Linked DNA regions of Homo sapiens. The protein of the gene in region 1 purifies or fractionates together with the protein of each later gene. This does not show direct contact. Each region holds a gene or a part of one and is shown on either strand. Other genes may lie near its edges. The genes, in order: IL17RD and RELT.

Evidence for each region.
Region 2: the proteins of IL17RD (region 1) and RELT purify together in Homo sapiens (affinity purification with mass spectrometry; 2 studies listed by BioGRID and IntAct, with this or other methods). This does not show direct contact.

What each region holds. Positions count from the first base shown.
Region 1 is NC_000003.12:57,152,468-57,164,886, forward strand, and holds part of IL17RD (interleukin-17 receptor D isoform a precursor), read right to left. Parts: intron 1,589-12,419; exon of another isoform or gene 1-1,588. UniProt on the Homo sapiens protein: Feedback inhibitor of fibroblast growth factor mediated Ras-MAPK signaling and ERK activation. Regulates the nuclear ERK signaling pathway by spatially blocking nuclear translocation of activated ERK without inhibiting cytoplasmic phosphorylation of ERK.
Region 2 is NC_000011.10:73,376,846-73,389,264, reverse strand, and holds part of RELT (tumor necrosis factor receptor superfamily member 19L isoform 1 precursor), read right to left. Parts: exon of another isoform or gene 12,396-12,419; intron 154-12,395; 5' UTR 129-153; coding exon 84-128; intron 76-83; exon of another isoform or gene 1-75. UniProt on the Homo sapiens protein: May play a role in apoptosis. Induces activation of MAPK14/p38 and MAPK8/JNK MAPK cascades, when overexpressed. Involved in dental enamel formation.

The DNA.
Region 1 (12,419 bases):
CCAGTCCTGAAAGCTGAACAAACGCCCGGCACACAGGCCTGCCTGCGCCCTCGTAGTCTCTCTGGACTTATGAATAAAAGATGGAGGTTTTGTCTCTGTTGTTTCCCTGGTACCCTGTAAGAATAACAACTTGTTGCTTTTTGACATTTTAACTTACTTTGAAAAATGACCAATATTAACTTTACATGTCTTGGCCCTTAAATCTGGAGTGGGGTAAAATGAAAGAAACAAAAGCCATGTAATTAGGTAGAAGATAATAATTCAAGTTAAACTAATGAAACTGTCTGTAACGGACTCTAATAAAATAATGTAGGTAACATGCAATCACAGAACTAAAAGGCTAGAAACTGACTTGGAGGATACGTTTTTAGTAAAGTAGCCTTTACTGGAAATAAAGTTCAATGTTTTCTTAGCACAAAGGAAAGAAATGGCTGAATTTTGGTGTGAGGAAGCAGTCAACCGTAAACCTGCCCCGGCCAAACACAGGTCTTTAATAGGAACTCATTCCCCGTCTCTGAGGGCGACATCTATAACTGCAACAAGCCCATGTGAATAGCAAAAGCCTTGAGCATTCTTGAGAAATAGCACTCCTCATTTTGAGACAGTGTGGTTGATTTCAAATAATCTTTAAGGAAAAAGTTTATTACAGGATAGCACAAATGACATCCTGCATTTCCTTAGACTCTCAATAAAGTAAAAGGGAAGGCTTAATGTGAAACACTGCATTTTTAAAAAGACAACACAAGACTAAACTGGGTACTACTATTAGCACAGATCTCTAAATACAACAATTTCACACAGAAAAAACAAATTTTTCTTATTGCTAAAACTGCATCTACATTTGTTACCAGTTGATATGTAAAATCCAACAAAGTCACAATATCACCTTTAGAGGGGTCTTGTCAAAATATTTGAACCTATTCATGAGGAAACAATCAAAAATCCAAATTGTGTACACAAGTGGCCTTGACTCTTCAGAATGTGTAGGCTATAAAGGACCGAAAAATAGGTAGAGGAACTGTTCTGTATTAAAGGAGGCTAAAGAGACAGGACATCAAAAAGCAATGAGTGACCCTTCTCTGCCCCCTAGAATGTGATGCAGAAAGAAATTATGAATGACATTAAAAGGACAAGTGAGGTAAGTGTAGCAAAACGTTATGAATTGGTAACTTTAGACAAAGGGGAAATGGGTGTTCATTTTACTGTTATTTCAATTCTTCTACAGATTCGAAAATTTTCAGAATACAAAGGATGGGAGAAAGAGCACAATAATGGGGAATCCCCATGTGGGGCTGTAAGGGACTCTAATATACAGGTGACTGTATTTTATACATTATATACATACATTTTACACACTATATACATTTATATTTACATTTTATATATTATATATACCTGTATTTTGTACAGGTGACTAGCTGCCTGCTTGAGGGGTTGGGGGGTTGGGATGGCAACAACTTCATCTTCCTGTATCGTTTCAGAAAACGTATGCTCTAGGCAGGGCATGGTGGCTCATGTCTGTAATCCCAGCACTTTGCGAGGCCAAGGCAGGAGGACTGCTTGAGGCCAGGAGTTCGAGACTAGCCTGAGTAACACAGTGAAACTCTGTCTTAACAAAAAAAAAGTAAAAAAATAGCCAAGCTTGGCGGCACACGCCTGTGGTCCCAGCTACTCAGGAGACTGGGCCAGGAGGATTGCTGGAGCCCAGGAGTTCAAGGCTGCAACGAGCTATAATTGCATGACTGCACTTCGGCCTGAGTGACAGAGTGAGACCTTGTCTCAAAAAAAAAAATTATATATATATATATATATATATACACACACACACACACACATACATACACGTCATAAATCCATTTAAAATCTCCTATATGCCTTTCCCTAAAACTCTTCTCCAGCAATTTACCATTCTCACTCTCCTTTTTAGAACTCTTTAAAAGTTCGCTGGCCTGCTGCCCCCATTATCTACCCCCATCCTTTTTTAATGAGATAAAAGCAATGATTACACTAGTCTTGATCAACTCGAAAACTCTGTACTTTTAAAAATGTGTGACCCTTTAAGTAAAATAAGAAAGCTCAGTAGATGGGAAATGTGCTCAAGTGAAAAGATGTGGGAGGTAGAATTTGTCTCTCAATGACTTCAAAACCCAAGGAGGAGAACAATGAGAGGCGGCCTGTCCATAGCAGCACTATAGGGGCAGGTGACAGTCACCTTGGGCATGCCAGCACTGGGAACTCATAGCTCCAGAGGCCCTGAAGCAGTCTTCCGCCAGCACAACCAGATGTTACATTTTTTCTGCTTAATTTTGGTAAAACTCCATGACGTCCTTCTCAAATTAAAAAGGCAATGCCATTTTTTTTTGTAAGCCACAGGAGCTATCTTTAGTGAAGCCTTCTAAGGATTTCATTAATTCATAGCCAGCCAACCAGGACTTTTCCCACAGTCTCCCACAAAAAAGCCCGGGAAGTCACTGATTGCTTGGCTGGATCTGAATATGAGCAGAGGTAAGATCAGAAATATCTAGTTCCTCCCACGGGGAGGCAAGGCATGAAAATCAAAGCCGGGCAAAAACTCATTTCCACAGCTGGCCGGCAAATCCGCAGCCCCGGAAAGAAGGCAAAGAGCACCTCTGATTATGGACAGACCTTCAAGTGGCTTCAGAAAATGAAATGCATTCACCACCAGAGGGGAACGAAGCAAACAAAAACGAGACCTGCACCTCTGTTAAGAAGACAAAGTTTCATACAAACTGAGGGCTGCTGCCAGGGAGTGAGATTTGTTCCGTTCACATCGTTTCAGAAAGTCCAAAACCGGGATGCTTAGTTAGTGCTTAGCAGTAACTTTTCACATTTTTCTCATCCACAGCACAGGGTAAAGTAGACAGTCCAAGCAACCCCCTCAAGCAACAGACACTCGGCCAGGTGTGGCTCCCACACAACACCAGCCCACACTCTCCCTGTCATGAGTGGGAACCTGGCTTGAAGCCCAGCCTCTAACCAGTATGTGGCCCCTGGCAGGAGTGCCAATAACTGTGGTGTGAATGAATAAATTAAGCATATTTTTTATGCTACTCTCAGCACTAACTGCCACATGATTAGCCAATGTTAAGAAAGCAATTTCAGAGGAAATTTTTTTTTTTTGAGACGGAGTCTCGCTGTGTTGCCCAGGCTGGAGTACAATGGCACGATCTTGGCTCACTGCAACCTCCGCCTCCTGGGTTCAAGTGATTCTCCAGCCTCAGTCTCCTGAGTAGCTAGGATTACAGGTGCACATCACCATACCCAGCTAATTTATGTATTTTTAGTAGAGACAGGGTTTCACCATGTTGGCCAGGCTGGTCTTGAACTCCTGACCTCAGGTGATCCGCCTGCCTTGGCCTCCCAAAATGCTGGGATTACAGGTATGAGCCACCACTCCTTGCCCAGAGGAACTTTTTATTACAGTTGCTTGACTGACATGTCACCTCCTCAGAGAGGCCATTGGAGAGTGTCTACTTGCAAACACCCATTGCTCTTATTGCCTCATTTTAATTTCCTGTAGAGTGCTTAGTCATTTAAGAAACATGTATGGAGAACCTACTATGTGCCAGGCACTGTTCTCGTGATGCAGAAGGGAACAAAACAGGTAAAGACCCCACCCACATGGAGCTGACACTGCAACGGGGAAGAAGGATGGACAAAGAAAATACTATGTATGTCCCAAGGTGAAAAGTTCGGCAGAGAAAAAGTGAAGAAAAGAGGACAGTGAGCAGCAAGTTGCTATTGGAAAGAGCATGGTCAGGTCTGATACTTCATTATCCTATTTGTCTCCCCTACTAAAACCTAAGCTCTGGCCAGGCATGGTGGCTCATGTCTGTAAACCCAAGTGGGCAGATCGCTTGAGGCCAGGAATTCAAGACCAGCCTGGGCAACATAATAAAACCCCATCTCTACAAAAAATGTAAAAAATTAGCCAGACTTGGTGGCACGTGCCTGTAGTCCCAGCTACTCGGGAGGCTGAGGTAGGAGAATTGCCTAAGCCTAGGAGTTCAAGACTGCAATAAGCTATGATCACGCCACTGCTGCACTCCAGCCTGGGTGACAGAGACCCTGTCTCTGGAAATAAAATAAAATCTAAGCTCTAGAAATCAGACCTAACACACAGAACACACCAATATTCACTCAATGAATGAATGGCCACTGAGTGTCCCTCTTATCAAACCGTTCACCTGTTGGAGAAATCTTCCAAGCCTCACCACTTCTGACAGAACATACACAGGCAAACTTCAAGGTGCCCTGTTATCTAGTACCTATATCTTCAACCTTACCATCCCCCGACCAATGAGCCCCCTTCTCCAGCTTTGCCCACATCTTACTTTCTGCCCAAACTGTCCCCCCAGCGCCTGGGTCCACTCACTGGTCAGGCCCTGCTCAAAGTCCCTTTGGTAAGACCTGTCTTCTTCATCTAAGCCTCCCACGAACCATTGAAATTCAATTTCTTCCTATAAAAACATCAAATTTGTTTGTTTCTCAATGCATCACTGCAATGTTTGGACACATTCTCATGAAATCTGGAGGGATGATGGGGTCGGCCAGGCTTTGTGGCACATGGGAAAGCTAGAGAGTGGTATGGAGAAGCCTCACAGAGAAAAGGGGGCCTCCTCCAAAGCAGGGGAAACTGAGGCAGAGCAAAAAGCCAGAGATACTGGGAACCAACTGAGACATGGGCTAAAAAGCCAGAGTTCTAAGGTGGCCTCAAGCAGGGCCTCAGGCAGTTGAATGTCAACAAACTGCTTTTCACGGGGGCAGTTCTAGGATGAGGAGCAGCAGAAGCCCGTTCAAGTTTCTCTGGAATGAGTAGGGAAGTGTGGAGAGAGGACGGGGAGTGCTCGGTACTGTGGCCCCAGAATCTCTTCCTGAATTTCCCTGTTGTCCAGGCCCCTACTCCTTTGTCTTGCTCCTGGCCCAGACAGGCAGCCACTGTGGACGGGGGACTGGTCCCACAACCTAACACAGGGTGGCTGCTCAAAAAAAGGGTCTCCTGCCTCCTCACTCCAAATAAGTCTTTTTGAGCTTCAGATACTGAACAGTTACAATAAATCCTAACCGTGTGAGTGCCTGTGCTGCACCCAGAGCAAATGTGCACACTCCAGAGGAAGGGGCCATAAACCGTCACTCAACAGAGACCACGCTCAGGCGGCGGACTGCTGCTACATTTGGTCCATACTGCACTGCATTTTCCTCAGATAAAAGGGGGCCGTTTTGGGAGAGAAGAAACCAGAAATCACCCGGACAGAATAAAATCACAGGGAAAGGGTTTCTAAACCATATGGCCTATCTCAGGAAAACACACCTCTTCGTTCCAAGGAAGCCCTCCCTTTATCCCATTAACCCTCCCACTCTCGAGTAAAACAGTCCATCGCAGCACAGAAGTCTGGGGACACTGCCAGCATTTTTTAAAGGGTTACTATTCAATGGGGGGAAAAGATCTACAAAAATGACCAAACAGAACACTTGGAAAAACTCCTAGTTTTGAAGGCAATAAAGTACTTTTTACATCTGAAAAAAAGTTGTATTTAAGGCCTAATCCCTCATGATTTCAAAAGGATTCATATGAAGTATTCATTTAATGTGTGAAATGTAAATATCCATCCAAACATTTTAATTAATGCTACCAATTTCCATTCCGTTTTCAAAGTTGATACTTGAATTTTATATGGCTTTTCTGGTACGTTCAAGCATGCTTCCCTACCATGTAGTAGTTTTAATGAAAAGCCTCATGATTAACGTCTATTAGATCAGGTATGGAATGAAGAAAGGTACAATAAAATTACAATTTACTAAGCTTCCAATAATACTTGCCATCTACTGCCCTTTCAAGTCTTAAGGTACCAGCCATATGCAAATAAGACATTTTAGCATTAGTTTTACCATAAAATGAATGCTTCTTAAATAAGCACAGTAGAGGTAGTTTTCATTTACACTATTAAATCAGAAAATTTATGAGCCCATTTCCGTTTTAGAAGAGAATTACATGTGTGTTCACATCACATCTTTATTTTGTCGTCCACCCAGTGATTTGTTGAGGACAGCTGGTACCTATTAAGTCCCCCCCTTTAAATGTTGTAGCCTTAATTAGCTACATCCACCTTCCCCCAACATTTCCAAACAAGGAACCAAAGAAAAGGGAATCCATTTTTATCATGGATACTTTGAACAATGGAGTTGCAAACATCAATGTTAACAGTCTCTATTAGAAACTAGTTATTCGTTTTTTAGGCCACTTCACAAAAACATGGTACAAATGGAGTTTTTGTTATGTAGGTAATTTTTTAAATTGTTCAATTTTTAGTTTCCTGCCTGGTGTTATTAATTAAAAGCCTTCTTTTAATATATTGTTTGGGAAAGGATGAAGGAGTCTCCCCAGAGATATTCTTGGTATTATTTAAGCTACAGACTTCTTTCTTACTTGGACTTTTCAGCATATGACTGAACAGGTAGAATCTGCAAATAGAGAAAGCAGCAGGGTGTGGTTTTCTATGAACAGACAACATGCCCTTCCCAGACACCAAAGGGTTTCCAACTCACACAATGAGAAATTGTTGATTGGATTGCTTTAACCTGCCATATATAGATAAAACACACACTGACTTAATTTACAATGTCGATATCTCTTCTTTTTTTTTTTTTTTAAAGACACATTTACATTTATGCACTCAGGACTTCAAGTGTGAATTCTGTTCAACAGACTAAATTCTGAGCAAGATAATGGGCCATCTCAAAGATTCCCCCCTTGGATTTGTTTCTTCAAGACTGGCCCTAGCTTTAATCTGCAGTAAGACTATCTGTTTCAATAGGATGTGATCACTTGAGGGCTTGTGTCTTTTCAATCAGCCGGTGGCCCTGCCGGGTTTAGAGTGGCAGAGGGGAAGTGGCCTGTGGTTAAACAGAGGAAATACCAAGGCATTTTAATAGAGCAAATAGTCTCTTTACTTCCCACCGGGAAGAGCTTCAAAGGCTGTGGGCCCCGGAGGAGACAATGTGTTTCGGAGGCCATCAGTCACCTAATCGTGTGTCAGGCCCATTCAGAACATCCAAGCAGCCAAGACAAACACTGCCCAGGAGGACAATGCCTCCCACTGGCTGGGCAAGTCTGGCTGGCTGGAGATGGGGCCTGTAGCTCCAGCACAGACAGCCCCCCGGCTGACTGAGGGCAGGAGCTCTCCAAATTTGGGAGTAGATGGGAAATGGAAAAGGTCTGGCTGCCAGGGCAGGGTGGCCAGAGAGAGGTCTGCTCTAAGGCCACTGCACCTCTCAACCTGTCAAGCTCCCTGATAGCTGAGCCCTCTCCTCACCCCACATTCTTACAAATCAAGGGTGGAGGCTCAAGTTCTAGAAGCCTAAAAACCCATCCATCAGAAGCAGGCTGAAGAGGCAGTGGGGGGCCAGGCACGGTGGCTCACGCCTGTAATCCCAGCACTTTGGGAGGCCAAGGTGGACAGATCATCTGAGATCAGGAGTTCGAGACCAGCCTGGCCAACATGGTGAAACCCTGTCTCTACTAAAAATACAAAAATTAGCTGGGTGTGGTGGTGGACGCCTGTAATCCCAACTACTCGGGAGGCTGAGGCAGGAGAATCGCTTAAACCTGGGAGGCGGAGATTGCAGTGAGCTGAGATCATGCCAATGCACTCCAGCCTGGGCTCCAGAGCGAAACTCCGTCTCAAAAAAAGAGGCAGCGGGGAATGAAGGAGGACAATAAAATTGTTGATGGGGTAGCCCCAGCAGGAGCAGACACCTGCTGGGGCACAGTATATAAAAAGTTCAGGGACAGAGGAAGAAAAAGCCTTGAAAGCTTTAAAAAAGAAAAAAAAAACATGTTTTAGGCCAAATGAAGCATGAAAAATACTTAAAAGCACTAGCAGTTCTTTCCTTTGTTGGGAAGTTGTAAGATTTGAACTGCTGAGAATCTGATTTGGATCCTGTGCTACTCCTTCCTGAGACTGTTTTCAGACAAACCCAGCTGTTCTAGGGAGGAACTCAGGGGAAGTGTCAAGTCCTCTTCACTCCAGGCCTCCTCATCTGCCCCAGGCCAGAGGCACCCATCCAAACTAGCTTCTCCCCCGCCCCGCTTCCCTGCTCCTCCCATCCTCACACTCCCCACCCAGCCTGACCCCTTTTATCGGTCAGGGCTCTGAGAAAGTCTTCACATTCTTCTCTAAGGCCAGTGACATAATTTAAAGCCAAACTCTGATTTTAAATGTTTAGAATGTGTGTTCTCCCCTTCTTTGGATTGTGGGACCCCTGTCCCCTAAAACAATAGGTCTCATCCTGGTTACAGCATGCGTATCCTCAAAAGAATTTGTTAAAATGCCAATTCCTGGGCTCCACCTCACTCTCACTCTGATCCCATTAGCTTTCAATCTGCATTTTAACAAGCTCCTGAGGCAATTCTGATACTGGAAGGCCCAGGGTGTCACTTGGAGAAAAAGTTAACTGCTGGTCTCCTGGTCACGGAGCTATATGCCCAAGTTAATAACTAGCACAATGCCCCAGGCACTGCAGGGGCTTGGGGTTGGGTGGATGGCTGAGGTTGGGGAGAGAAGGGAGGGCTGCTCAAGAAAGATGGACATGGGCCAGAAGAGTTCCCAATTAACTAGGCAAAACAGGCTGGAAGAAAGCTTTGCACTGCTTATAAAAACGTCTCTCTAAAAAATGTATCAACCAGGACTGAGTAATTTTTTAACCAAGAATTCTGTAACAGACACAAGAGCATCTGTAACATGGACAACATGGCCATACGATAGGCAGACCAGATGTGGGCTTAGGAGCCATGAGCTGCAAGTGAATGAAAATGCATCCAATTCAGAATCAAATAAACATGTCTGGGCCCACAGCCAAGGATAATTCTTGGATTGGACTTTTATCAGGAACCTAAATTTTAACCAGCTGGAACTTCTCTTTTCCAAGTACCACCCTATTCCTTCCTACCTTTTGTGATGAAGTATTTGCCTTAAATGGGAAACTTGCATTTCATTGTAAAGATGATGCCAGCATCCTGGCTTCCCGAATTCCTGAAGGAGTAGTGTTTTCTTGCAGGGGGAGTAGGAATTATGTTCCAGGGATAATAGACCAGAGAAGGTGGACCCCATTTAGGTAAGGAGGCAAGAAATGTTCCCTCCTCCCCCACTGCAGGAAAAGCCACTAAATACAAACCTGTGGGAGTAGATTCCTAACTCCTTGTTCCATAAAAAGGCTTCTAGACCAGCAAGACAAGGGGAGGGAGAACTTCAGTATGAGTGACTGACACAATTAAAGTTATGAACCAAACTTGCTTCTAGTTGCAAACAAAACCATTCCACTCTAGAAGCAAGAGCCAGTGTAAATGAGGATGGTGTGGTCCCTCTGGAGGTTTTACAAATCATTACTTCTGTGTGAACACAGTATTTATTACTCAAAGAGCAACCTTACCTGGCAAGGACCCTAAGAGAATTTTTTTTAAGTAGTTGAGGAAGTGTGCCCACAACTCATTTCTAAAACACTGACCTGTGTTCAAGATGGTATCAGCCTCTTAATTGCCCCACTAATAATGGGGAGGTTGTGAAACCTGACCACTTAAACCAGGCCAGCCCATGGCTCCTCTGGGAGCAGCCCCGAAGGGTCTGTTAGCAGGGCTGCAGAGGGTTGGCTGGCTGTAGTCACCTTGCAAGTCTTGCAAAAATACACATTCCTGCAAGGGCAAGGGTTCCTGAAACAAATGTTGCCTGGAGATCAAGGGGGTCATTTGCTCAGCTCTGCTCCAGCACCTAAATCCAGTTTCTCAGGACTTGGTGCTGCACCTTGCTGCCCCCTCTCAGGTTCTGAGTATGGCCCAGGCCCACAGAAAGCCTCCTCTGATTTGCATCACATATAGTCGACCCTTATCCTTTTATGTTCCTACAGCCCCACTGTAAGCAACCTTAGAGCTGAGGCCAACATCTATGGACTAAGTACCTCTTATTTGGTAGGGGACCCAAACATGAATCAAATACTCTAGTCACTGTGTACCAGTACTTCCTAGCTGACTCCCTGACAGAGCAACTTCTAGAAGACATGACCTAGGGAGGTGTGGACAGGGACAATTTTTTGCAGAAGTGATGCTAGGGCCGAGAAAGGAAGCTGCAGAGGTGTAAAGGAACACAGGCAGGAACAGCATGTGCAAAGACAATGGACCTTGATGCCCTGATCTTTGCCTCTACTTCTTAAAATCTATCAGGAAATACAGGATTTAGCAGGAAGGCAGCAGGGTCTAATTTGGTTCAGCCAATATTTACAGGGCTCTGACGCCACCAAGATGAGGTTCAGTGCCTGGCTAAAGAAACTAGTCTGAAGACATAGAAGTGAACAAATACTGACAAAGCTGTCTGATGAGACTAAAGTGCAAGGACCTGCATGAGAAGGTAAAGCAAGGGGCATGGCATTCAGGAGGGCTTCCCTGAGGAGGTACCACCTGAACTGAGTCTTAAGATAGGCAAGGAATTCTCAAGGGAGGAAAAGGCATCCTGGGAGGAGGGAAAAGCATGTCTTGGAAGCACAGAGGGCATCCATCCGGAGTTAGGAGCAGGATGAGAAGGGTAGGGGGTGAGGCTGGAAAGGGTGGGAATGCAAAGCATGTGGGGAAACTGGGTCCATGAAATCCACCAAGCAGCAAATCCAGGAGACAAGGAACCATGTATCAGCCTGGATGAGCCTGGAATCTGGAACATGGCCCAGAGGCCTCTACGATCGTCCAGGAGGCGAATGAGGATGACCCAAGGAAACGATTGGTGGGGCCAAGGCAGGAGCAGCTGAGAAAAGTCACCCCCAACTAGGGGCTGTGGTGGAGAAAACGTCAGCATAAGTGTGAGGTGACTGGGACAGAGCCACCATTTTATGAGGGTGCAGGTTTGGGAGAGGAGAACACACTCGCACAGGTAGAAGAAAATCACCAGCCTGGCTCCGTCAGGGCACTACCATACCCCACAGCATGGAAACTTCACGAGTTTTGTACAGTGGCATAAGAAGCCACCTTGGCAACTGCAGCAAAACAGTGAATCGGACTGATTTACCTACGCCATCACATGAACACTCAAAATAAAACGCCTGTGATATTGTAGTCATTCAAAAGCCAATAGGAGTCTAAATCCAAAATTCTAGTAGGATCCTTAAGTCAACACGAGATCCTCCTTGAGGAAACTTGCTAGCTACTAAAATTTTTTTAAACAATAAAACAAGAGCAGTAATGTTTTACTGAAATGGAACACAGTAAGAAAATGTGATGCTTTACTCAACTAGGAAGGAATGACAGAGCCTAATGGGGCGGGGGGGCGGGGGGGGAAGGGGGTGGCGGGGGCGGAGGCAGAGCAGGGGTCATAGCCGTCTCCATAGCTTAGCTACTGAGTCTGAAGACATCCCAGCTGTCTGGCTCACACCTGGTTTTCTGCACCACATTTCTTGGGACTGTGGGGCAAGTGAGCTTGGAGGCACCAGCCTGCGTGCCTAAGGGAGTGTTATGTCCTAGGTTTTGGCTGTGCTGAGGCTGTTTAGAGCCACCCAGAAGAGGCTGAGTCAACGTTCGCCTAAGCAAACCACTCCATACCTATCCCTCAGCCCAGCAATACTAAGGAAATTCTCATTTCATCCCATTTTTCATATGAAGAAATTGAGGCTCATGGCTCCCCAGGAGCAGAGCCAAGGTCATGTCCCTGCTGCCTGAGTGCAAAGCCTACGTTTTCTCCACAAGCTTAAGGCCGTGAGTGCCCTGACGCCGGGCCCACCCGGGCCTCGGTGGGAGACTCGGGGCAGACGGACATCATCTCCAGGTTCTGGGGCCGCCCAAGGCCAGAAGCCCAGGTAGGGAGCAGGGAAGCTGAGAGGGGAATGGCAATCACCCGCGCCCATCGCCCAGACAGTGTCAAAGGAGCGCTCGGTTCCACGAAGACGGCTCAATGCACACGGCGAAAGTCTGGGCACCTCTCCAGTCTCGTCTCAGGCACCTCACCCAGATGACACCCACGCGGCCCTTTGGCGGAAAAATATCCGCAACTCGAAGCAGGGAAGGAGGATATCAGCCGCGAGACCTTCACAAGACGAAGGGCTGAACCGGGAGGCGAAGTTTCTCAGGAGGTCCCGGAGTCAGAGGAGGGGTAGGAGTGGGGTGACGGCCCCAGGCGAGGAGGAACAAAGCTACTAGAAGAGCGGGGCGCATCCCTCCCCGGTGCTCCAAGTCCCCTCTCCGGCCGCCCGGGCCTTAGCAGGGTTGTGGACTGAAAGTCCGGGAGAATACCCCCTTCCCTCTCCAAAGCGCAACCCGGTCCGGGTGGCTCGGGGGATCCCAGCCCGGGACACGCAGCCCTGGGACGAAGGAGGTCCCGGGCCAAGAACAAAGGGTGGGGCGCCCGGCCCAGCCCCGCCGCCCCTCA
Region 2 (12,419 bases), on another chromosome or scaffold:
GGGAGTGTCTGCACCCTCTTGCTGGAGGGCTGCAGGGCTGAGGGTGCGGCTTTTCTCCTTCCCAGGGCCCATCCCCAGCTCACCATAAGGAAGCAGGACAGGGGCCGGCACAGCAGACTTGGCTTCATCCTCAGGCCCCTGGTGGTCGCCGGCCTAGGGCAGATGGAGAGGAGGCTCGGCAGAGCGGCAGGGACAGGCAGGCAGCTGCTGTCCCCTCAGCACCACTTCCAGGATGACAGGACTCATGGGGAGCAGGCAAGGTGCTGCTGGGCAGGCAGAGCCCGGGGAGGCCGGCTCCACACCCGCAAGCACAGGCCCAAGCAGAGGGGGCTGCCCTGCCTGGGAGCCGGCCTCACGGGGCAGCACAGGCAGGAAGGCAGGAAGAAGGCTCTGCAGGCTGGGAGGCTTCCCAGAGGAGGAAGGGCTTCCTTCCCCTTCCTTAAACTGCCAGGTGCCCCGAGGCATCAGCAGGGGAAGGAAGCGCGTGTGGCGGCCTGTGTCCGTGATGACAGGGTTGCAACCAACACCCAACACCCCAGCCCGGCCTCCACACTCCAGCCCAGCGCTCCAGGCTCAGGCTCCCCCCGCCTCCTCCTCACAGGTCTGCAAGCATGCCCGGCCTCTGCCTTCACTCCTGCTGGTTCTGGTCCAAGGAAGGCCTTTTCCTTTACCCTTCAAAGCTCAACACGAAGGCCTCTCTTTCCAGAAGCTTCTCTAGAAGCTTTCCCCAAAGTGGGTCTGGCTCCCACAGCTCCCCACCCCATCTAGGTCCTGGTCCTTCTGCATGGCCACTGTCCACACCTCTTCCAGGGAGGCTGACTCCTCCCTTGAGGCTGGAACATGTCTGGCCACAGCTCTTCCCCTGGCAGACCTATGGGGCTGGGGTGGTCACGGCAGCCAGTGCTCTGTCTTTGTCATCTCTCCAGCACCTACTGCGTGCGGGCACTGGAGAAATCGGTATGAACAAGACAGACAAGGTCCCTGTCTGCAGGGAGCTCCATCCCAGGGGAGACCCAACTGCAAACAGAGAGGTGCCCCTGCCATTTGGTGGTAAGTGCCAAGAAACGAAATAAAGCAGAGTGGGAGTGCAGTGTGTGATACTTCAGAGAAATATCCATGGTGGCGTCACGGCCCACCGGTCTGAGACTGAGGCCCCCAGGCCCAGACGGTGGCCTGCTCTGGAGAAGCCTCCGGCCAGTGGACGAGGCGGACACAGCAGGACAAAGGATTCACATCAGACAGCAGAAGGGACAGGTGGCAGAGCAAGGAAGTCCGCTGTGTACTTCCTGGAGGCCTGGCTTCAGGGGCACGAGGCTGAGGAAAGCCGTGCTCTTCAGGCCACACGCAGCCTCTTAAGCCCAGGGGCAGCCTGGGAACCCAGCCACTGGCTCAGGGCCGCCGCGGCTGAGGCCCCCGCTGTGACTCCAAGGCCGGTGAGGTGAGAAAAGCGCCTCCTGTGGTAGTCCCAAATCACTCAGAGTCCTCTCCCTGCAGGCAGCCCGGCCCTCCCACCTAGAATAGCAGCCCAGGAAACCGATCTGTCCACCCGCCCTCCCTCTTGGCAGATCTCAGAGGGGCCCAGGGTTTGAGTTACACTCAGGGGAGGGAGTGGGCAGCAGTTACATCATCTCAGGACTCTCCAGGTCACTGGCAGCCACTCTGGGTCCCAGGCCAGCTCAGGGGAAAGCCAGGGACAGGAGAAGGTAGGGCCACAGTATAGGGTGGAGGCCACACCTGGCAGTCAACACCCAACAGATGGCACCCCCAGGCTATTTGGGGAGGGTCCCCTGTCACTCCTTAAATTTGGTCACAAGTCTTCCTTCCAGTTTCTGCCCCAAAGTGTCCTGTGCCCTTGTCAGGGCCCAGCTCCCACCTCGAGCCTGTCTCCCCATGGCCCCTCCTCTGTCCTTTGAGGGATCTAACCCACAGACCTGACCACGAGCCCCAAGTCCTCAGGCTTCACTTCCCCACTAGGCCTGACTACGCAAGACAGAGCCTGATGCTGGGGGTGGGGGCAGGCTGTGGCAGGCATGGTGGCTCACGCCTGTAATCCCAGCACTTTGGGAGGCAGAGGCAGGTGGATCACGAGGTCAGGAGTTCAAGACCAGCCTGGCCAAGATGCTGAAACCCCGTCTCTAGTAAAAATACAAAAATTAGCCCAGTGTGGTGGTACAACTTGTAATCCCAGCTACTCGGGAGGCTGAGGCAGGGGAATCGCTTGAACCTGGGAGGTGGAGGTTGCAGTGAGCCGAGATTGTGCCACTGTACTCCAGCCTGGGCGACAGAGCAAGACTCCATCTCAAAAAAAAAAAAAAAAGACAAAGCCAGGGGGAACCGTGACCAACCCAACAGCCCAGCCCCCAGCTCTAGCAGCCCTCCATGTCCCCAAGGTAGGCCCAGAGGGCTGATGCGGGGGTGAAAAGAGGCCAAGCAACCACAGCAGAGAGCCCTAGAACCACCCCAACCCTGGGTGGCACCTGCTAGGTGACCTGAGCCCACAGGGAGCAGCTGTGCAGCTGCTCATCTGCAGACAGACGCAGAGCTGTGTGATCTAGAACCTTCCAGGAAGAAAGCGGGGTCCAAAGGCCCAGACTCAAAGCCAACGAGGGCCCACTCCAGCACACGCATAGACACTGCCACCTAGGGCCTTGCACCTTCTAATTACGCACCTTCTCATTACCCCAAACCAGCACTTACTCCAGTCTGGCTGCCCGGCCCCCACACTCAGCCCAGACTGAGCCCCCACTGGACTTGCCCGGTCAGGTAGAAAGGCCTGGTGCACACACATGTCCACACCTGCTGCTCAGCACCCCTCACACCCTGCCCCACAAGGCCTCCACTGTCTAAAACGGCCCTGGAACCGTGACCAAAAAAACAGTTAGATGGAAGCCCCCTCGGCTGGGAGGGGATATCTGAAGGTCCCATATCCGTCTCTGCCTCATCCTAAAGGCTGGGCAGTCAGTGAGGCCCCAGAGCCTCCGATGCCTGACAGAGGAGAGCCACACCCAGCCACACTGGATGGGGAGGAGGGGCCCCAGGGGGGTAGCAGAGAAGGAACTTGGCTTAGAGGCCACTCCTCCCATGTCTCCTAGCCTGGGGCCCAGTCTCCACTGCCACCAACTCCCTTTGGGACCTTCACATCACTGGGTCTCAGTTTTCTCATCTACAGAGATGGGGACGTTCATCTTGCTGGCATGGCTGTCGCGAAGTTTTTGGGGAATTTCTGTTTTGTTTTTTCTGAGACAGTGTCTCACTCTGCCATCCAGGATGGACTGCAGTAGCACGATCACAGCTCACTGCAACTTTGAACTTTTAAGTGATCCTCCTGCTTCAGCCTCCTGAGTAACTAGGACTGCAGGCATGCCCCACCATGCCTGGCTAAATTTTTAAATTTATTTTCTGTAGAGACGGGGTCTCATTATGTTGCCCTGGCTGGTCTCCAACTCTTGGGCTCAAGCGATCCTCTCGCCTTGGCCTCCCAAAGTACTGGGATTCCAGGTGTGAGCCGCTGTGCCCAGCCAGTCATGGGGTTTAAAGGAGGTAATGAAGCTAAAGTAGGTCATGGGATTTCCTTCTCCACAGCCCTTCTCCTCTGCCCTGCTGGCAGAGGGCTGTGATTAAGTATTTGTTTGCTTACTTGTTTATTCCTTGCTCCCCCACCAGACAGTGGTGAGGGCAGGGACGTCTGTTTTATTTGCCACAAAACTCCACACCCAGCCCCATGTCTGAAGCGGGAGGCCTCCAAGCAGGCTCACGAGGCGGGGAGGGTTTCCTCAGACTCAGCTCTCCAAAAAAATGCCCGAACAATGAGAACCAGAAATTCCCTGGAGAAAAGCCAACTAGCAAAGGCCACGGCCAGACCCCCAAGCTGAGGGCCCCAGACCACGATTGAGGCCACAGATGGTGGAGCCCCAGGGAGGTGCAGCCTGGAGGCCTCAGAGAAAGAGGAAGCTGTGCCACCAGCCCAGGCCACAGGCAGCTTCCCCTTTCCCAGAACTGAAGCTCGCTGGGGTCACCCGGGCCCTGCCACGCCACTCCCCCTCCCCTAGGCAGGGCCCTCCCCTTCCCTACAGTCCCTAAGCTCTCCCAAGGCCTGCGCCCATTGCTCTTGCCCCCTTGCCCTGTCTCTGGCCTCCAGGTCAGTCCCGCCCTGCAGCCTAGGTGCCCTGACACCCAGTTCTGGCCCTGGCCCTGGGCCAGCTCCCACCACCCTCAGGATGGCGTCGTGACGCGCCCCCACCAACCTCCCCCACCCACACGCCTGCCACGCTGAGTGCTTTCCACCCTCACACACGCTGCACCTGCTTTCTGCTCTCCCCTCATCGCTTGGCCAGCACCCACTCTTCCTTAGAGCTCAGCTCGAAGTCACTTCCTCCTGGAAGTACCCTCTCCCCCACCTCCCCCTCAGCATTCATGGTGCCATGCAGATCCTATTACCCAGCCCTTTCCCCACCACGAGCTGCCTGCTCCATGCCCAGTGCCGACCTGGGCGGGTATGGGCTGATTTGGGGGAGAAGGCAGAAAAGGCACTCTTGGTAGAGAGCCCAGCTATGCCGAGCTAGAAGAGCCAGTGAGCAGGCTGAGGGGGAAGGAGCCCAGAGGCTGGGGTGGGTCAGAACCCAGATCTGAACCCCTGGGCTAACCTGGGGATACAAAGTATGGGGTGCAGTCCTGCTCTGCTCTGTCTTGCACTGGCTCTGTGGCCTGCCTGCAGAGGGCTGTGGTAAGGCTGAAAGAAGAGAATCACATTAAGTACTCAGCACAGGCCTGGCACAGAGTAAGCATTCCCCACACTTCACTGTGACTCAGTTTCCCTACGTGTGGAATGTGGAGGAGAAGGGCACAAACCTTTTATTTACGTTCAGTGCCTGGCACAGAGTCTGGTATACAGGCGGTGCTGGGTTCGCCCTGGTGGGAATCTGGAGGGTGGGAGGGCGGAGAAGACGGGAGGAGTCTGGAGGAGTCTGGGAAGGTTGGTGGGCAGTGCTCAGGTCACACCAAGGCTCAGCTGCCTGCCAAAAAGCCTGCACTTCCCCCTAGGGCCTATGGGAGCCAGGAAGGGTTAAGCAAGGGATGGAGAAGAATGAACAGTTCGGTCTCAGCAGGCTCCCCAGGCTGCCTGCTAAGAGAGGCCGCACTGGGGGAGATGGAGGTGGGGGCTGGTGCCCACCTGGAGGAGGGCAGGTAGGGAGGCAGCTACTCTGCTTCCCAGATAGTGGCTCCTGAGCCTGTGGACCTCCCTCTGGCCTCCAGAGGCTAGGGTTGCCTGGAAACACAGCTGGACACAGGCCTCCCTTGGCGGTGGCCACACCCAAGGCAGGAAGACAAAGGCCACCCATCAACAGAGAAATCCAGGTTAGCAAGGAGCCCAGCGGTTCCCTGGCAAGTGGGGCTGAAGTAGGGCAGCGACCACGCTGAGTGGCTTTCCCTCTTCCACACTCACAGGGAAAGGAATGGACCCCAGCCCTGTGCAGGCCGGGCCCTCATCCTGGGTTGCTGCCTTTCCTTGCAGGAGAAGTGAGCATTCCTGTTTCACAGCTGGGCAAACTGAGGTCAGGGGAGGTCACTGGCGGGGGTCACACAGCCAGTAAGAGATGAAGCAGGAATGGAGCCCAGGACTGTCTCTTTTCTGCCTCCTTTTGCCCTGCAACTTAGCCCAGGACCTGGCACATAGTAAATGTCCTTGCAGTGTTTGCCAACCTGATGGTGGAGGCTAGCAAGCTAGTAGCACCCAGTAGGTGGCTCAACTGAGGGTCTGTTACTAAGGACCCAGGAGGGCCCCAGGAGAAGGTGCTGTCTGCACCGCCATCCCATGGGGCCTCTAGGAGTTGCCTGCATCTATACTCATTTGCATATTGTTCTAGTCTGTGCCAGCTCTGGCAGGAAAGGGAGCTGTGAACTGAAAGAGGCAGGAAGACCGGGGAAGTCTGGGAATTCCCAGAGCGGGGAAAAAGAGGTCCCAGGGTGGAACCCCAGCTTACTAGGGCTGCTGCTGGAAGCTCAGAGATGTGCAGAGGCTGGCTCAGGGCCACTCAGTGAGACAGGTGCTCCACTCCTGCCCCCTCCCACAGCCCTGGGCAGCCATGAGCTCCCAGGTCACCACGATGGGGTATAAACCAGTCCCTCAAGGGCTGGGGAGCACCTCGAGGCCAGGCAGCAGCTGCTCCCCAGCCCACTCTCAGCAACACCCCCAGAAGTTGGGCATGGTTCTGCACCTCAGACCTCCTGGCTGCCACCAGGCCTGGGTTTCAGTGGCTCAGGTGGATGGGGTGGGGCTGAGGCTAAGGGGGCTAAATTGGCCCCTTGAGGCCAAGAAAAGGGCTGAGGTGGCCACACCTGGCCCACCCAGCTCCTCCCAGTCTGGGTATGGTACAGGTGCAATCCTTGCCCCACTTCCTGGGCCGAGTCTGGGGCTAGAGGAGGGATGTCTGAGACCAGACAGTTATCTCGGGCAGAGAGGAGGCTCCCTAACCCTCCTCACTGAGCACTACTGCCTGTCCCCTTCCCACTCTAAGCTGGGTCTCACTGAACCCCTCAAAGACAGTGTTCCATGCTTCACACAGAAAAAACTGAGGCTCAGAGAGGTCAAGTGGTAGCCTGTAACAACTTCACCTTGAAGGAGATGAAGTTTACCTACCCTGGAGTAGGGGCAACTGGCAGGCGACCCCTGCCTGAGCCACCCAGGCCTGGTATCTCCACTGCTTCTGGCCACCGTCAACCTCTCAGCACCACAGACAGCCCTGTGTTGCCAACCCTGGCCCTGAGACAGGACAGCAACGGGTCTGGGGGTGCTGAAGGACACCTCACTGCAGCCCCGGCTCATGCTCTGCTACCTCCTCCAAGAAGCCACCTTTGCCACCTGCCCCGGCCATAAAACTGATCCCAAGTCCCTAATGTGCTCAGCATGGGCCCTGCCCCCAATCACCCTGACCTGGAAGACCTGGGCAGAGGCTTTGGGAGGGACTTGGGGGAGACCACAGCCCTGGTCTGCCCCATTCTCCAACTCTCCCCAGACTTGCGGTGCTGGGGAAAGAGGCGCCCCCAGGGCCATCCCAGGTCAGGTCCTACCCAGTGGAGCTACGCTGAGGACTGGGGTCAGTGCAAGTGCAGTGGTGGAGCAGGGAGGAGACAAGGTTGGGCCCTGGAGCAACCCACCAGGGTTCAGACTCTGGCTCTGTCACTTCGCAGATCGATGGCCTTGGGCAGGTTACTTACCCTCCCTGAGTTTCGGGGTCTTCCTCTGCAAACAGGGGTGCTAGTCCCTGCCTCATGGGATACTGAGGGCTCTCAACACAGCTCCACGAGGGCCAGAGGAACCCAAGCTCAGGACCAAGCAACAGCCAGCCGAGGTCACCCAGAGGCTTGGGTGTGGCAAGAGTGCTTTGGGGAACTCCACGTAAACCCTGGCAGCACAAGTAGAGGGGCCTCGGCCTCTCTGGGAGGGCCCTGGGTGCCCATGTCCCAGCCCCTGTACAGGCCTACGTCCACCTGCTCCCACACCAGCCAGGGCCATGGTCAGGAATGTAAGGGGTAGTTCAGCAGTCAGGAACCCAGCCCCAACTTCCCAAGCCTGTTTCCCAATTACACCAGTGCAGCTGACCTCATGGTGTGGTGGAGGACTCAGCGTTCACAGGCAACAGGGGCTCTTCTTACAATCAGGCCTTGGGCCAGGCATCCCCTCCTGTAGGAAGCCTCCCCAGCCTCCCTGTCAAGAGGGCCCCCTCTCCTCTCCAGACTCCCCCACCCCTCACCCCTGCCATCAGTTTTCAGTCTCCCTTGATTCCTCGAGAAGGGGTGAGGCTCCTTGAGGGAGGGAGGGAAAGGGTCTGTGCAGGAGGCCAGGCATGCAGCAGGCTGGTGGTGTGGGTGGCCAAGGTCCTCCCCTCTCACTGCTCCTCCTCACAGTGCATGCACTGGGCTAAGCGCAGGTCCCCCCTCTGGAAGCCCCCACTCCTCTCTCTACCTGCACACTCAGACCCTGACTCTAACTGGCTGTAGAGGTCCCGCTGTCCCCCTCTGTCTGTGACAACTAGCCAGGGCACTTGCTCACAGCCACATGGGCAGCTTATTTATAGAGCTCTCATCTTTCCCAGAGTGGCCTAGGAAAGAACTCTGGTCTTCAAGGCCAGCAGACCTGGGTTTGGATCCCAGTGACACTGGGGCCTGGCAAGTGCCTCCTCTCTCTAGGCCTTGGTTTCCCTGCCTGTGCTTGGAGGGAATGATGACCCCCAGGAGTATAAGGCTGAGGATGTGACAGCCTCCCGGGCCATAATCCCACGGATGGGCAGAGTAGGGATGCAGCATTGGCTCTTGTCCTCTCTGCCACTCCAGCCCCACTCAGCAGCACCAAGCCTAGGCCCAGAAAGACACGGGTTCAGCACACAGTGGGTATTCTCCCTGTCCAGAGACCACATCCCTGCTCCCCCATCGATCCTGAGTGGGGAATGGCGCCAAACACACCCTGCTGAGTAACCTCAGGCAAAACCCCTTCCTCTCTGGTCCTCTCTCCTGCTGACCTGGCAGAAGGGCTGGCCCCATAACAGAAGTAGTCAGGTCCCGCCCAGCCAGACTGGGTGCTGACCAGCCTGGCCCTTCTTGAGAAACTAATGTTAGAATTGTCAGACAAACCCCTCGACCCTCACCTCCTGCCTGGAGACCAGGCTGGGGGCTGGGTAGGATCTGGAGTACCTGACTACAACACAAGTGGCTGCGTGACTCAGCCTAGGGCTGCTCTCTGAGTCGAGGTTCCCCCATACCAACTTGGAAAGGAGAGGGCCCGGGTGAGTGCTGTTGTGAGGAAATGCTGGGCCCAGAGCCTGGCACACTACAGGGCCTGAGCAGGGACAGTTGCCTCTACTGGCTCAAGATGTCGAGGACCATGACAAGCACTACACTTGCCCCCTACCCACAGGAGTGGCCGTGAGTCTTTGCCCCCACCCGCCAGCACACATTCTGCCTCAGGTCATGGTGAGCACCAGAGACCTGGGTGCAAATCTCCCGGTGCCTCCCAGCACACAGGTGCTGGGATCCTAGAGCAGCTGCCCTTCCTCAGGAAGAGGTCTCGTCAGCACAGAGACGGCAGTGGGAGGGGGTGGGCTACTGGCCACGCTGGCCCCACCAAGCTGAGCATGCGGTACCCACAGGTGCCCCAAACCTGTGCCCATTCCCCAGCAGTGAGGGAGGACACCTGGCAGGTGGCCCACAACAATGAAGGGAGACTAATTTCGGGCCAGGAGGGCTTCCTGGGTGAGGTGGAGCTGGGGCTATAGTCTGGATGGCCAAGAGGGTTCTAGAAAGAGGGAAGCTTTAAAAGCAAAGGCAAGGCAGACAAGGCATCTGGCAAGGAGAGGCGAGGGTAAAGATGCAAATTCTGAAAGGCCTTGGAAGGAAAGGCCTCATTGCCAGGTGAGGAGTTTGAACTACACTTTGTAGGCGAAAAGCAAGTTATTTTATGGAGGTCACTCTGGCAGTGTGCGGGAGAGCCGACGTGGAAGCACAGAAGCTAGAACCAGAGCCTGGGCAGGGATGGCAAGGCCAGAGCTGGAATATGAGGCAGGCCGACGTCCAGAAGGTGTGTCTTGGGCCTGCTTCCAGTGCTGGCCAACCTCCAGCCGCCAGGGAAAGTGTGGACACAGAATGACAAACTCAGGACAGAAGGCAGGTACCGCGTCTGGAAGGTGAAGGTTCTAGGAGTCCTAGGGTAAGTCCCTGAATTCTCAGAACCTCAATCTCTCCTTCTGTGAAATGAGATTGGGCCTGACCCTATGAGTAGGGGCAGGTGCTGACTGGCCCTCAATATCTCCCCTCCTTGGCTAGACATAGGGCCCTCCCTCCAGCAGCTATCACACCAGTCCCAACTGTGGTCACAAGTGGAAACCCAGCCTGGCCCCACTGTCATCCCCAGAGGCCCAAGTTCCCAGAAAGGTTTGGCTTGGCCAGGGCACAGGCTGAGGCTGGGGGCCTCCTTTAAGGCTGGGATAAGGAGAAGTTAACCCTTCTCCTCTTGCTCCCCCTCCCAGGCCCTAAGCTATTTCCACCTCTTTGTTGAGGATGGAAATAACTCCGGCTCAGCCCCTAGAGACCACGACAGCTATTTTCATCAGCCCCAAGAAGCACAGCTCCAGTCATTGCAGAGAGGACCGAGGGACACCCTGATCCCCAGTTCCAGTTCTTGGCCAAGTGGCAACAGTGGTCAGAGCCAAAAGGGGTCTCTGGGAAGAACAGGGAGACCGAGGCCCAGAGAGAGTAGGGACCAGCTCAAGGTCACTCCCTGTCTGCTCCCCACCATAACATGCAGGTGGATTTGGGGAAATGCCTCTAGAGCAACTGCAAAGGGGAGGGGGCCTCTCAAGTATGATGAAGGTCACCTGGGACTCTCAATTTTCCCTGCTACCCCTAGGCTGTGCTGCTAACTCCATACACTCTTCAAAGCCATGGGGACACCCCCAAAGCCAGGTCCAGGCTCTAGAAGGCAGGGGACAGGACTTTCTGGTGATGTCTGGTTGGGAGTGAAGTCTGGGGAGGAACAGGAAGACCATGTAACCCACCCATCCCCAGTGTTCCAGACATGTGTGCACACACACACATCATACTTAGAACTCACAATGTAATGCCCTGGCTAGGCCACGCCTACTAGCCCAAGTTTGAGAGACAGAAGTCCAGGAAAGCCATGAGCAGTTATTAGGAAGGTGGGTGATCCTCTCTCCCAGCATCTCACTGGTCTCTGGGGTCAGAAGACCTGAATTCCAGTCCTGGCACTGTCCTGACTCTGTATGACCTTGGCCAAGTCACTTTGCTTCTCTGATCCTCAGTTCCTTTCTCTGAAACACAGTCACTACATCTCAGAATCACTGCGAAGATTCAACAAGACAGAACACCATGAAGTGTTCAGAACAGTGCCTGACACTGTCCCCCACCCTGTCCCCCACCCCTAGAATGTAATCAGCATTTTCAGAGGACGACAGCAGAAGACAGAACTTCCAGATTCTACAGCAAGTGCCACCCTCTCCTAGACTAGGGAGCTCAGCTTCCACCCCACCCTGCATGAACCCCACAGACCTTCATACGGGAGAAGGGGCCTCAGAAGGGTCTTGCCCAGATGGCGAAAGGGTACCGCTCCAGCTCTCCAGCAAGAACTTAGCCTCCCAGACCAGAGACCACTCCTGGGGAACAAGTCTCTCCCCACTCTCCCCCAACCCAAGGAACTGAAGAAAGGACACCCAGGCAGAGAAGTGAATGTCTATGGATTTGGGGATCCATATTGTCTATGGATCCATTTCGTGACAGAGGACCAGGAAGCCTTTGGGTGGGAGGCTAACGTTTCCTTGACCAGTTTTGGAGAAGGCTGTGCTTCCAACCCTATCAGTAGCCCCTGAGTGCAGCCCCTGGGCCGCTGTGTCCCCAGGAGAAGCCTGCCCCCACCCCCCACTGCAGTCTTTCTGCCTGAAGGGAAGGGAGAACACAGGCAGTTGACCCAAAACAATAGAGGATCCCAAAGTGATGATTCACAGTCCATTCAAAGCCCAGCACCTCAGTGTGCAGATGGGGAGACTGAGGCCTGCGCGGGGGAGGGGGGCGGGGGGGTCTGAGAACAAGATTGTGTCCGGGTCCGCTGAGAATACAGATTACACAGGGGCAGAACTTTGCCAGGTGTAGGGACTTCGATGCGTGAGTGTGTGGATGCAGGTGGGCGGGGGGAAGCTGAGACTACCACAGGGCCCCTACCCTGCTGCCATCTGGGCCACCCCACCAGATGTTGCCCAGCCTCGGCTTTCTCCCTCAGCCAGGGCCTATCCCTCAGGGTCCATCTCCTCACCAAGCTGAACTCCTGAGGGGTGCCCTCGTGGGGACAGTCCTGGAGACCCTTGTCTCCTGGCTCCCCAACTTCCTCATCGCCCCACATCTGCCGGAAGGTGTCCTAGGTCCGGTCCCTCCTCCTCCTGCCTCTTACTCATCATCACCCTAGGCGCAGACACACACACACACACACACACACTGACACCACTTGACCCCACACGCACACCATGGCGCCAGCGAGCTCGGCTCGTTCTCAGTCACTTGGGCTCCTCTCCCTCTATTTCACACTCACAGTAACGGGTGGCCCTGGCCCTGCGCCGGTCACGCCCCAAGCCACGCACTTCGTGACCCCAGTGACCCCGGGTCTTTCCCTCACACAACACACGCACACACGCTGCCTGTCTCCCACACACAGAGCCCCTCTGTGTCGCCCGCTCGGCCCGGCGTCACCGCCCAGTGTCCCAGCCACACGTTCGCCCGGCCAGGCCGCCTCACGCGCCGTGTCACCCACAGTCACGGGCTGACACCATCCAGACCCCCCCTTGGCCGCCCCGCGCCGCAGCCGCGCCGAGGCGCCGCCGTCCAGCCCGCACCACAACCTGGTCTCGGTCCAAGTTTCCCGG